4 linked regions of the Homo sapiens genome follow. The protein of the gene in region 4 interacts with the protein of the main gene of each other region in a pairwise test. Each region holds a gene or a part of one and is shown on either strand. Other genes may lie near its edges.

Region 1 (3,720 bases), on a different chromosome or scaffold from region 4:
GGAAAATTAAACTGCTTTAAGATGTTTTTGGATCCTGTATACATTTTGCAAACTAGAAATCTCTATTTTAAAAGGTGAAAAACTTAAGATAGAAAAATGCAAATATTAAATATTAGAAATATCATATCCTTGATTTTTAAATCCTGAAAAATTTTCAATCAAATTCTTTGGTTTAAGATTCTTTTGGCTTGATTCCCAAACTAATTTAACTGCAGCTTTATCTACCATCTCTACTAACACCACATATATTATAGCTCATAGTATTTTATGTTGTAGATTTATTTTTTATCTCCCCTCCACCCTTTTTTTCATAAAGAACTAACTCTTGGACAGATACGAAGCAGTACTATGAGCAATCCAGATCACTTTCCTCAACTGTTACTGCCAAAAGACCAAGTTTCAGGCAAAGCAGTGTGTCTGATAGAAGAGATTTCCAGTACTGAAATCCAGGTGGAGATGAAGATGCCAGCCTATGAACTAAAAATTGTGCATGATCACAGTGAGAAACCTCTGAAAATTGAGTTGAAAGTTGAATTACCTGGTATTAATTCTGTCTCTCTCTGTGACCTTAGTGTTTCTGAGGTAAGTTGAATAGATAACACTGTAAATTTGTATTGGCCAGCATTCACTAACATATATTATGCCACAGTAACAAACTACATAATTTCAGGGGCTTACAATGATTTGCTCAGGTTACCCGGTGAAGGAGCAATTCCCTTCTGAGATGTGCCATTCACATCTCAGCAAAGGGAAAATAGAATGATCAAACCATGCAGTGGATCGTAATACTTCTACTCAGACATGACACTTCATGATATCACTTCTACTCACGCTCCACTGGCCAAAGTAAGTCACAAGGCCAGTTCTACATCAGTAGGACTGAGAAGTGTATTCTCACAGTCACAGGAAGTCATATGGCAGGGTAAACGTACTATCCTCTTACAGAAGAGCAAATAGTTAGAGTCAGTCCTACAGTCTACCAGTCTACACTCTTGGTTGCAAATATTTGCTTCTTTCTGGAAGGAAAACACCTCCAATCCCAGTATCAGACTCCAAAGGACAGAATTTTGCTTTCTCTTCCTCTTGAACCATGGACTAAGACATGTAAAAAAAGTTATGTACTCCCTCAGTCCCATCTGTCATGCAATGTGGAATGGGGAGAAGATAACCGTAATTAACCATCTCAATTCAGAAATGGGAAAAATAAGAGGCACACTGCAGTTACTGGTGCACAGCAATTCTGAAATCCTAGTAGGCAGACATTGTGAGGGCTCCTTTTCTGGAGGTAGAGGATGTTCTTACTTAGGTTCCTTGAGAAAGTTCTGTAATTACCTAGCTCCCCAGTTCCATTTTTTTCCACGACCTTTAGCTTCAGTCTTCAGGAAGATGTTTTCTTTTTTTTTCCCTTTCCCACTATCCACCTTGGCCACATCTGAAGAGTATCGGAGAATGTGCCATTCTTATATGCTAAGTAGCCTCTTCAGCCTGGTTCCTGCTCATGGAATCTTGGGGCTCAAAGGATTGTTTTAAATTTTGAAGGCAGTTTCTTTTAGTCCAGGCTGGTAGCATTTTGATTCCAGTCAGTGATACCCATAATTCCTTTTTAGACATTGCCCATATTTCAAGACTTACCTGTCTCTTTAGACTTAATTGCTGTCATTTTAGCCAAATGTAAGGATTTACTGAAGTCCACCTTAGTACAGTCAGAGGTTTTGGCTGGGTACGGTGACTCATGCCTGTAATCCTAGGATTTTGGGAGGCCGAAGGGGGGTGGATTGCCTGAGCTCAGGGGTTCGAGACCAGCCTGGGCAACATGGTGAAACCCTATCTCTACTAAAATACAAAAAAAACATCAGCCGGGCGTGGTGGTGGGCACCTGTAGTCCCAGCTATTCAGGAGGCTGAGGCAGGAGAACTGCTTGAACCCGGGAGGCGGAAGTTGCAGTGAGCCAAGATCGAGCCACTGCACTCCAGCCTGGGCAACAGAGCGAGACTCTGTCTCCCCTCAAAAAAAAAAAAACAAAAAAAAAAAAAAACAAAAAAAATTCAGAGGTTTTAACAAAGAGCATAAAGATTTAATCTTTGCCTCTATATTGCCTTAATCAGCTTGGTTGATAAAAGTAATTTCTCAATTTTATCCCTTACTTGCTGAAAATAAAAATTAGTTCCACTTTTCAGTCATTGAGTCTTGGAATCTTGGGGCTCTATAAAGTCCTTTTTATTTATTTATTTATTTTGAGACAGTCTCACTCTATTGCCCAGGCTGGAGTGCAGTGGCACCATCTCAGCTTACTGCAACCTCTGCCTCCCAGGTTAAAGCGATTCTCCTGCCTCAGCCTCCTGAGTAGCTGGGATTACAGGCATGTGCCACCAAGCCTGGCTAATTTTTGTATTTTTAGTAGAGACGGGGTTTTGCCATGTTGCCCATGTTGGTCTCGAACTCCTGGCCTCAAGTGATCCACCTGCCCTCAGCCTCCCAAAGTGCTGGGATTACAGGTGTGAGCCACCGCACTCAGCCAATTCCCTTTTAATTTGACTTGCAAAATGGTCCATTCTAAGCTCATCTTTCTTGTAATATCCTGTTAAATGTAGTGAACAGAACCAACACATTACCATCTATTTTCCCACTTCTTCACCTAAAGCCACAAATCAACTAGGCACAGAGTATTTATCATCCAAATTACTGTGATAGTTTCACTAAAGGCTTCATCATTATGAAACATGGATCACTACCTTTCCAGGCTCCAATAAGTTTCCTTGCTGTTTGCTGGTCAGCCACATAATTTAGGATGGCAACACTCTACTGTGGTACTGTATCAGTTAACGTGTGATGTAGTGAGCAGCAGTAACCACCTTAAAATCTAAGGGATTTACAACAGTAATTTTTTGCTCATTCCAAGTCACATGGCAACAAATGGGATCTTTTTATGGCAAAGGAGTGAATAACTGGGAACAATAAGTTAGTATCCCAAATTTTAAGCAGGAAATAAATCTCTTGGTTTATTATTCTTAGGATGATTTATTGATTGAAGTATCTGAGAAGTACAGATTACATCTGAATCTTCCAAAACTTATTGATACTGAAATGACCACAGCAAAATTTATCAAAGAAAAATCCACGCTAATCATCACAATGCCTTTGGTGTGAAAGAAGAGCATCATATGTTTTGGGTTTTCAGTGCTAAAGTCATGTGAATTAAAGGACCTTCATTTTGGCTAAAGAGGTAGTAGTTTATCTTAAACACCAATTCCATTATTTTCTAAGTTCATTTTGACTGAGATTTTCTCTTCACCTGTTATGTCAAATATATATATATATATATATATATATATTTTTTTTTTTTTTTTTTTTTTTTGAGACGGAGTTTCGCTCTTGTTGCCCAGGCTGGAGTGCAGTGGCACGATCTCAGCTCACTGCAACCTCCGCCTCATGGGCTCAAGCGATTCTGCCTCAGCCTCCCGAGTAGCTGGGATTACAGGCATGCACCACCACGCCCAGCTATTTTTTTGTATTTTTAGTAGAGACGGGGTTTCACCATGTTGACTAGGCTGGTCTTGGACTCCTGACCTCAGGTGATCCACCTGCCTCGGCCTCCCAAAGTGCTGGGATTACAGGCATGAGACACCATGCCTGGCCATGTCTTATATTTTTTAACTCACTTCTTCTCAAATAAACATCAACCAGAATTAAAAACTATTGCTATGACACACTTGTTTTAAA
Region 2 (4,010 bases), on a different chromosome or scaffold from region 4:
GCACAGCCCCAAGTAGCTGGGCAGTGCCCACTTTGTGGCTCATTCCTGGGCTTGGTGGAGGTGGTGTAAATCCCACCATCTCCTCTTCTAGAGGGCTGGCCTTGGTAAGATGCTCACACTTTCTGGGCCTCAGTGTCCTCATCTGTAAACTAGGCATGATCATAGTTCACACTTCACTTGGCATCATGGGAGTGAATCAAGGTGAGCTGGCGAGGGGCCAGCTCCCAGGAGGTAGATGGTGGCCATGATCATGGTGATGTGCGCACTGAGACCCTGGGATCCCCCTTGGCTGGTCCCCAACCCATCTGTCACAGACAAGACACCACAGCAATTCCAATTTTGCAACAGAGTTTATTGAGGTGCCCCCCCGTGGGCCTGGCCCTGCCCCTCATTCCTCTTTCTCGTCTCCATGGGTGATGATGTAGCACAGTGACTTGTAGTCGATGTTCCCCGCCAGGTCCATGGGTGTCAGGGCGAACATCTGCTCCACCTGCAGGGGACACTGGTGAGTGGCAGTCCCCTGGCTCCTGGCCCAGCCCGGCAGAGACCTCACCTGAGTCCTGTGGCCTTTCTGTCTGCCCCCTGCATCTGTGCTTTTTGCCTTAGCTTTTCAACCCTAGACCCCAGACTCTGGGTTAATGTTTTTCTCTTGGCTGACTCTGGGCAGAGTGAGGAGTCAGTGCAAATGTGGGCCAAGAGGCAAAGGACGCCCCTCCAGCCACAGGCACAGGCCCACCCCGAGTGTACGAAACCTCTCCCTATCCACTTCCCCCCAGGTCTGTGCACAGTCTCCCTGCCTGGCGCACCCTGCCCTCTTTTCTGACTCCACATCTTTACCCTCTAGGTCTCAACAGAGATGGCACCTCCTCCAGAAGGGCCCTCGGCTCACCCTTCCAGCAACTGCCTCACTGGTACTGGGCTCTGGGTCATGGGTGAAGGCCCAGAGAAGGTGCTGGGGATGAGTATTGAAGGGGCTGGGCAGCCTCACCTCAGCTGGAGAGAACTTGTCTGCCTGGGTCAGGAGAAGCTGCTTGAACCTGGGGGGTGAGGAGGGTCTGAGCAGGAGACTGCGGGGGAGTGACTGCACAGGGAAGGTGGGTACGGAGGCTCCCATGGCGCAGGGAAGGGTTGGCTGCACCCCAAAGAGCAGTGTAAGGCCCCGAAGCACAGGCAGCCCCCCTCACTAGGGGCCTCACCCCGCTCTCTGCTTCCACCACGGTGCTCCTCATCTGGCTGGGCCCATACTTACTCATCCTTGTTCACCACCCCTTTGCCGCTGGGGTCAAACATGCGGAAGGCACTCAGGATGGCTTCCTCGGGGTCTGTCCCTGGAAGGCCGAGGCAGCCAGGTGAGCATCCATGTCTCCAGCATCCCAGGTCCCCCGCAGGAGGAACTGGGCTGCATGAGGAGCCTCCCACATCCCAGAAGAGGTGGGGGTATTCCCTAACATAAAATGTTTCTCGGGGATCAGTGGGGCTGGGAATGGTCATCCTCCTGAGGCGGGCAGCTTGGCTGGGAGACTGGAATTTGGGGGTGGGGGCTGAAGGCACATTTCCTGGCTCCAAGTCAGCACTGGGGTGACCAGTGCACATGGGATTCTGGGGCAGAGGATGTGCTTGGAATGGGTCATGGCCAGGAAGAGTCCAGGTGGGTCCAGGTGGGGTTCAGTTAGGGTTCAGGTGGGGTTCATGTAAGGTTCAGGTGGGGTTCAGGCAGGGTTCAGGTGGGGTTCAGGCAGGGTGCAGGCTCCCTGCCTGGCCAAGGGTGCCCAGCTCTGTCCCAGGCTCACCATTGAGCTTCTCCCCAAAGAGCGTGAGGAAGACGGTGAAGTTGATGGGGCCCTTGCCCTCTTGCAGCATGGCGTCCAGCTCCTCCTCTGGGACACTCACCTTCCCTGGTGGGGGTGGGGCATGAGGTGCACACAGGGACCCTGGGTGTCCCCCAGAAGGCCCAGGCCGCCCTCCCTCCATCCTGGCCACAGGGGCTGGAGGGGCAGAGGCAGCTGTGGGTCGGGAAGGTGAAGTGGAAGCAAGGCGTGACAAGGGGGGAAGGGCAGTGTGAGGAGACGGGGAGGAGGGGAAGCAGGGGAGCAGAGTCCTGTCCCCCCAGCCACTCCCACCCGCCCAGCAGCTCAGAGTAGGGACCCCAGTGCGCAGGGTGGGAGGTGGGTGCACGCACCCAGCTGGGAGTAGGTCTCCCTCAGGTCTGCCTTGCAGATGATGCCATCACGATTCTGGTCGATACAGCTGAAGGCCTGTGGGATGGGGGCCTTCAGGTGGGAGCAGCCCCCAGCTCTAGGGAAGGTGGGAGGTGGGGGAGAGACCTGGGTGGTGTGAGAGGCAAGGTCAGGGTAGAAGGGGGGTATGTATGTGGGGTGGGGTGGGGGGGCCAGGATGGGATCTGAGGCTACTGGGAGTGGGCACTCACTTCTTTGAACTCCTGTATCTGGGCTTGTTCAAACATGGAAAAGACGTTGGAAGAACCACGTTGGGCCTGCTTGGTGGCTGCCACCTTGCCCCGGGTCCCCGCCTTCCTGCTGGCCTGCAACACTGTGAGTAGGGAGGGGTCCTCTCCCCAACTCCTCAGAGTCTCCCCACCCCACCCATCATGCACAGTCCCAGAGCATTCCCAGGAGAGCCAGGGCCAGGATCCTCTTCCTCTCCCTGGGGACCACCCTCAACCCAACACAAGCACAGAAAACTCTGCTCCCCCAGCCCAAAGGCCAGCACCTGGGAGACCGCTAGCCTTTCTTCCCCAGCAGGCACTCACCATTCTCTCTGCAGAGGTGTGGCTGCTGTCGTGGTGGCAGGGCCCAGCCTCCTTTATGTCTCAGCCTTATCACCTGAAGGTCCAAATAAGGAGAGGAACAGAGGATAGGCCCAAACTTGGCAGCCCCCGCCTGGGCTGGGGGAGGCCTAACAGATTCCAGCCACATTCCTGATGACCTTCATGTCCTCAACGTGTAACATCCTGCTGTCTATCCATCCTGGCAGGGCCAGACACAATGTCTGCCTGGAGCAGAGCAGGCTCAAAGCTCTCACCACCCTAGGTCCTGATGAAGGGATCCAGTTACTCCTGTATCTGACCACCCCTCCTTGCCAGTCCAGCCAGAACCCTGGCCAGTGCAAGAAGACAGCTGGTGAGGGCCAGTCCAGGGCCCCCGCCAGGCATGGGAGGGCAGTGTGTAGTTCTGAGGATGGTCTGTGGCCTGAGACCCCCGGGGCTTCCCAGAGGTTTTGGTGACCCTAGGCTCTGACCTTTTGCCCCTCTGACCAAGGGGCAGAAGGCATCCCTGAGCTAGCTGTGACCCCAAGAAGAACACTTTGCTTGGCTTTGGGGCAATTCCAGAGGGTTAAGGAGCTCCATCAGCTGCCCTCCCATGCAGTCTACCTTGCTCCCAGTCTGCCCTGCTGTTTGGAGCCTTGCCTTCCTCAAGCCTCATCTCAACCACACTACTTCAGAATGCTCTCCCTAACATCCTCAGCAGGGAGCTTCTGGGGCACATTTCCCATTTGCCTGGTGGCTGATGTGTTTGTCATTCCTGGCTTCTGTGCCCCTCCTGAGCACCCCACCTGGTTGACATCTGTATCCCCAGAAGGCCTGGTGCACAGTGGGCCGATGGGCAGGCCTGCGTGATGCTGTTCCAGAGAAGCAGTCTCGCCAGCTTCTGGGGCCGAGGGCACAGCAGAGGGGCTGGGGAAACAGGGGACATCCTGGAGGCAGCAGGAGTGGGCCACCCCAGGCTGGGCTCACTGGCTGCTGCCCCTCCACTGGAGCCAGACCTATGTCTGTCAGTAGCTGGCTGGTAGAGTGCAGGAGCTCTTATCTGTCAGACCCAATACCCTTTTTATATAACAAGAGTTTTCTTTTAAATTTCTTAAATTCCCTTTTTTTTTTTTGAGACAGAGTCTCACTCTCGCACAGGCTGGAGTGCAGTGGCGCGATCTCAGCTCACTGCCACCTCTGCCTCCCGGGTTCAAGCCATTCTTGTTCCTCAGCCTCCCAAGCA
Region 3 (3,500 bases), on a different chromosome or scaffold from region 4:
TGACCCTTTGTTTTACTGCCCTAGGTGACAACATGTACAGCTGTGAGCGGTGTAAGAAGTAAGTGAGCCTTCCCCCGCCTTCTCCCTAACTGCCGTTTCTGTGCCCTACATATTCCCCTTGGGTTCCTGCAGAGAGCCCCCTATAATCCTGCCTTCCCAGAAGGGAGCCGGGTGGAGGGCTGCTTCCCTGGCCCCTGGCCCTGATGCCGGACACTGATGCTGGCTCGTGCTTCCTCCCCAGGCTGCGGAACGGAGTGAAGTACTGCAAAGTCCTGCGGTTGCCCGAGGTGAGCCAGTGGCCTCGGCAGCCTCCTCCTCAGCTATCTCGGGATGCACACCAGCACACACCAGGCAGGGGCTGAGCCTGCTCCACTGCTCGGGCACTTCTGTGCTGCAGGGGCCGTGGAGACTCCATAGCTTTGGCTGAGAAACCTCTGGGAAGGGTTGGCAGGGGGCACATTTTTCCAACTGTGACTTGGTGCCCTCTCTCGGTAGCCTCAGCACATGTTGTCTAACATGTTGTATGAGGGCCCAATGGGAGGCAGGTGTGTGGGACACTGGGTTACCACCCCCAGTGAGACAGCTATGGCTCCTGCCAGCTGCAGAGTGGCGGGAGGAGAGCTGGTCCAGCTGGGGCTGTTGCCAGGGGTCTTTCTGAGGAGTAACGTCTGAGTGGGGCCTGGAGGGTGTAGGCTGGTGTCAGCGTCGTGGATGGAAGGCACAGAAGGAACAGACAAAACCCCAGTGCAGGAGCAGGCTTGTCCGCACCAAGGAAGGCACGTGTGGCTGGAGCAAAGAGGAGAGGGCCCTGGCAGAGGGGGCCCAGGTTGGGGCTGTGGTGGCTCGGGGAGGCTTTGTGGCTTCTCAAAGGTAGTGCCGACAGAACTGGTAAACTTGATGGCTCATTGCAGCTCTTGGGGTCCAGTTCTCAGCAGTGGAGCTGGGAGTGATCTGTGTGACTTAGAGCGAGCCCAGTCTGGCCCCCACGTGGAACTCTTGGATTTGTTCCAATGGAGTCAGCTTGCATGATCCCATCAGCTGTCCTGGGCCCGTGGGCAAGGCTGCGAGGGCCCGCATCATTTCTTCCTAGATGACCGGCGCTCTCTCTGTCCCCGCAGATCCTGTGCATTCACCTAAAGCGCTTTCGGCACGAGGTGATGTACTCATTCAAGATCAACAGCCACGTCTCCTTCCCCCTCGAGGGGCTCGACCTGCGCCCCTTCCTTGCCAAGGAGTGCACATCCCAGATCACCACCTACGACCTCCTCTCGGTCATCTGCCACCACGGCACGGCAGGCAGTGAGTCATGTCCCCTCCCCTGCCGTCCCCATCCGCTAGGATCCCTGTGACCCGTCTGCTCTGCCGCCGCAGGTGGGCACTACATCGCCTACTGCCAGAACGTGATCAATGGGCAGTGGTACGAGTTTGATGACCAGTACGTCACAGAAGTCCACGAGACGGTGGTGCAGAACGCCGAGGGCTACGTACTCTTCTACAGGTGGGCGCTGGGCCAGGCCTGGTGGAGGAACCTCACCATCCCCGTCCCCTGGGACCCATGGGCCTTCTGGGTGTGTGTAGGGGACAGCGCCTGGATTAAGCCAGGGAAGTAAGGACTTGGATTGTTAAGAAACAGCCCTCTGGCTGCTGTGGGGAACCCAGGAAGGCAGCTTGGAGCCTTCTCCAGGGCCCTGGCTGGCGGCACAGGGGGCTGCTCACATGTCCAGGACCCGTGAAGGACCCAGGAGGTGGTGGACAGGGCCGGTAGCCCGAGGTGCACTGGGATGGGGGCTCTGCATGTGTCTGAAGGTGGCAGCCGTCAGGCACAGCTTCTCGCCCCCTCCTCACCCCACAGGAAGAGCAGCGAGGAGGCCATGCGGGAGCGACAGCAGGTGGTGTCCCTGGCCGCCATGCGGGAGCCCAGCCTGCTGCGGTTCTACGTGTCCCGCGAGTGGCTCAACAAGTTCAACACCTTCGCGGAGCCAGGCCCCATCACCAACCAGACCTTCCTCTGCTCCCACGGAGGTGAGGCGCCCCCTGTGGTGGGAGAGCAGGGTGGGCAGCTGGGCCGAGCCACAGCTTCGCTCCCTGTACCTTCTTCCCAGGCATCCCGCCCCACAAATACCACTACATCGACGACCTGGTGGTCATCCTGCCCCAGAACGTCTGGGAGCACCTGTACAACAGGTGAGAGCCTGGGAGGCCAACTTGTCTCCGTCCTGTCCAGGGCCCAGCTGGGCAGGAAAAGAGGGGAGGGCAGGGAAGGAATGCCACCAGGACCCCACACCACACTCTGGCCTCCACGTGGGCAGCACAGAGCCGCCTTCACTTGTCTCATGGAGAATGACACATGTCGTTTGTGGGAATCCGCTTGGATCCTTCCAGCGGCAAGGGACAGGAAACTGGCTGAAGCACAGCTGAGTGTGTTGGCCATCTGCTGAAGCACAGCTGAGTGTGTTGGCCATCTGCTCTTCAGCCTTGAAGCAGGACCTCCCTTGGGCTGTGGGCGCGCTGCTCCGTTGCAGGCTCTGTGGTGCTCACACAGAGGTGCATGCAGGCCTGCGACAGCGCTGAGGGGGCACTGATGGCTTGAGGGGGAAGTGGAAGGCAGTGATCACTCTCCCCTCCCTGGTACCCCGCTCAGGCCGTGTCTCTCTCTCCCACCCTGGGCACAGATTCGGGGGTGGCCCCGCCGTGAACCACCTGTACGTGTGCTCCATCTGCCAGGTGGAGATCGAGGCACTGGCCAAGCGCAGGAGGATCGAGATCGACACCTTCATCAAGGTGCGTGCGGCGAGGCGGCGCGGGGGCGGCTCTGCCAGCCTCTGCCTGGGGCAGCTGGGGACTTGGGGACAGAAGAATCCTGTGCAGTCCCTGAGCAAGTTTGAAAGCAGTCTTTTGAGGCTGGGCATGGTGGCTCACACCTGTAATCCCAGCACTTTGGGAGGCTGAGACGAACAGATCACTTGAGGTCAGGAGTTTGAAACCAGCCTGGCCAACATGGCAAAACCCCGTCTCTACTAAAAATACAAAAATTAGCTGGGCTTGGTGGCAGGTGCCTGTAATCCCAGCTACTTGGGAGGCTGAGGCAGGATAATCGCTTGAACCTGGGAGGCGGAGGTTTCAGTGAGCTGAGATTGTGCCACTGCGCTCCAGCCTGGGCAACCGAGTAAGACTCCATCTCAAAAAAAAAAAAAAAAGAAAAAGAAAAGAAAGGAGTCTTCTGCGGGGAACTAGATGGCCAGGTGTCTAGGAGGGCTTTTCCTGGTGGGAGGGTTGGCTTGAGTAAGTGAAGCCTCATCGCCCGGGTGCTGTTGAGCTTAAAGAACCAGTAGATGGATCCCATTCTCAGCCTTGGCTGTGTTATTTTGGGCTGAATTATTCTTTATTGTGGGGCCGTCCTGTGCATTGTAGGATGTTTAGCAGCATTCTTGGCCTCTACCCACTAGTGCTAGTGACAACCAAAATGACCTCCAGAGATTGCCCAGGGTCCCCTGGGGTGC
Region 4 (3,063 bases):
GTGTGTTTGTCCGAAATCCCATCACATAGGTCATGGGCATCTGATGCATAATGGACACTTGACTGGTTCATGCCCCCTGGTCTTTGATGCTGTGTTGGGATGTTTTTCTGACCTTTATGTGGGGTGTCTTGTCTTCTCTCATCATATTACATCCCTTCCCTCACCCCCACGTCCGTCCTCTGAACCCAGGCAGTACACCAGTGTCTGCATGTGTGCCGTGTGTTCCTGCCTCACTTTCCCCTTTTCATGCCTTATTCTGACCATGCTACGTTTTCTTCTCAGTTGAACAGACACGGTAGAAGACTCGCCCATTTTGGAATGTGACCGTCTGTCCTTCAGGAGAGGACACCAGGGTGGGGGTGAAGGAGACACTACTGCCCCCACCCCTGACAGCCCCCACCCCATGGCTTCCATCTTTTGCATCACCACCACTCCTGAACCCCCATTTCTGATTTGTCAGAATTTTTTTTTAACAAAACTAAAAATGAAACACATGTGTCTGTGGTATCTATAAGTGCTTCGTCCCTTTATTGTATTTGGGGTGAGGTTATTTTAGGGCATGGTCCAGGGTGAATTCCTATAAGGCCTGGGTGCCCTGCCTGCTGTGAGATCAAAGGGGAATGGGACTAAGACTGCAGAGCCCTGGCTCCCCCACTGCCTGCCAATTGCCTGCGCTTTGTGGTCTCTTCCACTTTCTCTGGCCTGGGAAGACGCTGGGGTGTTTATGATCCCAAGGCTCCTGGTGGGTGGTGCGTGTATTTTCAGCGCCGGAGGGTGCTGTGGGCACTGGGGGAAACTTAGGCGCCTCCTCCAAGGCTCTCTTGGTGCCTCCTCATCTGTTCCTTCAGCTTCTGGATCTTGAGCACCAGGGCTTGGGCCTCCCAGGCTCCCTCCTGCCCTTCAAGGAGGGCCTGGTACAGCTCCAGCTGCTGCTCCAACAACTCTTCAGCTCGGGCCAGCTCAGCTGTGCGGTGGGTCCCAGGGCCCTGGTCAGGGAATTAAGGGAGGGAGCATCAGCCAGGGCAGGGGGCTGAGGCCCTGGGAAGCTTTGTTGCAGGCTGTGGCTGGAAGTGAGAAATTCCACCTTCCCTATTCGTTTTTGAACCGGTCGTTTAAGGACACCTGTACTGAGAAGGCCAGGTAGCTTCCTGTCTTGGGCATAGGCCTCTGGGTGGTAGTAGGGGGAGCAAATAGAGTTCCCTGGCCCAGGGGCTGTAACTGGCTTCCTTGAACAAGGATATGGGGTCACTGGAAAGAGGATCAGCTGCTCCTCCCCGCTAAGAAATAATTAACTGTTAGGTGAGGGGGAATAGATCCTGTTCAAGGACTTTGTGGACTGTGCTGTTGTGGGTGGGGGTGGGGTGAGGGAAGGGAACCCTGAGGTCTGGGCTGGGGGAGGTGGGGAGAGGAGTTGGTAGCTGAACTAAGAAAAGAGCTGCAGGGGTAGGCATGGTGTGGGGTGGTGCAGGGTGGGATTGAGGGTTTTTTTTTCCCACACCCCAGTGTAAATTCTCACACCCTCTGTTCCTACCTGTGGTGCCACTTACCCTGGGAGGGGACGTCATCTTCCCATTTCCTCTGGAGCTGGTCTGCTCTTCCATGCTTGCTTTGGGGTTTTGGGAGCAGCACCCATGGGAGCCCTGGGGTGCCAAGGACCAGGAGGGCAGAAGGAGGCGAAGGAAATGGTACCGAGAGAGCCAGGGCAGAGGGAGGACCATGGCGGGTGACCTGGCAGGGAGCTGTGTGAGCTGTCCAACGGCCACCAGGAACTGGTTCGCTCCAGGACTTGGCCTCACTTGAGTGCCTGGCCCTGCCCAGGCCCCAGCCCCCAGCCCTGCCCCTGCCCCTGCCCCACTCTGCCCCACGTCTCTCCCAGCCTGGCCCCAGACAGAGTCCAGGAACAACTCCTGTTCCTGATGTGAAAAATGTCCCTGCCAGTTTAGGCAGAACTTGCTTTAGAGCACTGGTGCCCAGCCTACCACAGGTCTGTGATTTTTTTTTTTTGATCTAGTGTTTATTAGGTATGAATTTTACAAACATTAGCGGTAGCTGTGGAGCTGGAGAGTATTGCACCTTCTCCAAGCTGCATGGCGAGAACCACCAATAGTGTGGTAGAACTTACAGCCCTTTCCAAGGCCGTGGCTCTCTTGGCCTGCAGATAGCCTACGCATCTCCCTATGCTTGTTGTGGACCACTGGGTGTCAGGTTTCCTTCTGATAGTGTTATGGAATGGATCAACTAGGATAGCCTCAAAAACTTTGTATGTGGAATCTTTAACCAGCCCAGTGAGAATTCAGGACTCAGAGCCCCACAGTGGCATCCAGCTTGCTCTTCTGTAACAGACTGAAGGCTTTAAGCAAACTAGCTGGTTAACACCATGATAGACAGGCTTGCTGTTAAGTTGCCTTCTTAGGAACTAGATTTTCAGCCACCGTGGCGCTTATATGTAACATAACCTTGCTTGGCTGTAGCCCAGTAGCGTGCTTTATTGGGCTGGGTGGGGCGGGGATCCCTGTGGAGAGCAGAGAGCTGGTGGTACTGCCAGCAGCGGACCCTCAGAAGAAAGCTCATGACATCAGACTGCTTCTTCCATAGCTTCTGGATGTACTTGTATGCACCATCTTGGTTTACCCAGTGGCTGCTGCCAGACAGAAAGGAAAGGCTACCACAGGTCTTGTGTCTTTTTTTTTTTTTTTTTTTTTTTGAGACGGAGTCTCGCTCTGTTGCCCAGGCTGGAGTGCAGTGGCGCAATCTGGGCTCACTGCAAGCTCTGCCTCCCGGGTTCACGCCATTCTCCTGCCTCACCCTCCCGAGGAGCTGGGACTACAGGTGCTCGCCACTACGCCCGGCTAATTTTTTGTATTTTTAGTGGAGACGGGGTTTCACCGTGTTAGCCAGGGTGGTCTCGATCTCCTGACCTCATGATCCGCCCGTCTTGGCCTCCCAAAGTGCTGGGATTACAGGCGTGAGCCACCGCACCCGGCATTTCTTAACACTGTCTTTTCTCACTTCACTCTGCAAGGTAGGAATTACCTCACTGGTTTGCACCTGAGGAAACTGGCT

The links. Proteins that work in one complex are often made in the same cells at the same time.
Region 1: the proteins of MCCD1 (region 4) and PIH1D2 interact in binary tests that used the Homo sapiens proteins (3 or more experiments, as listed by UniProt).
Region 2: the proteins of MCCD1 (region 4) and MYL7 interact in binary tests that used the Homo sapiens proteins (3 or more experiments, as listed by UniProt).
Region 3: the proteins of MCCD1 (region 4) and USP20 interact in binary tests that used the Homo sapiens proteins (3 or more experiments, as listed by UniProt).

What each region holds. Positions count from the first base shown.
Region 1 is NC_000011.10:112,067,298-112,071,017, reverse strand, and holds the end of PIH1D2 (PIH1 domain-containing protein 2), read left to right. Parts: intron 1-316; coding exon 317-582; coding exon of another isoform or gene 583-591; intron 592-3,012; coding exon 3,013-3,147; 3' UTR 3,148-3,220; downstream 3,221-3,720.
Region 2 is NC_000007.14:44,138,533-44,142,542, forward strand, and holds MYL7 (myosin regulatory light chain 2, atrial isoform), read right to left. Parts: upstream 2,801-4,010; 5' UTR 2,774-2,800; coding exon 2,771-2,773; intron 2,543-2,770; coding exon 2,429-2,542; intron 2,325-2,428; coding exon of another isoform or gene 2,256-2,324; coding exon 2,180-2,255; intron 1,896-2,179; coding exon 1,791-1,895; intron 1,329-1,790; coding exon 1,250-1,328; intron 1,038-1,249; coding exon 989-1,037; coding exon of another isoform or gene 890-988; intron 491-889; coding exon 389-490; 3' UTR 332-388; downstream 1-331.
Region 3 is NC_000009.12:129,873,458-129,876,957, forward strand, and holds part of USP20 (ubiquitin carboxyl-terminal hydrolase 20), read left to right. Parts: intron 1-24; coding exon 25-58; intron 59-241; coding exon 242-287; intron 288-1,118; coding exon 1,119-1,299; intron 1,300-1,371; coding exon 1,372-1,498; intron 1,499-1,852; coding exon 1,853-2,022; intron 2,023-2,102; coding exon 2,103-2,184; intron 2,185-2,672; coding exon 2,673-2,781; intron 2,782-3,500.
Region 4 is NC_000006.12:31,527,670-31,530,732, reverse strand, and holds MCCD1 (mitochondrial coiled-coil domain protein 1 precursor), read right to left. Parts: upstream 1,772-3,063; 5' UTR 1,719-1,771; coding exon 1,548-1,718; intron 987-1,547; coding exon 798-986; 3' UTR 501-797; downstream 1-500. Other genes in the region: spliceosome RNA helicase DDX39B, read left to right, coding at 283-299.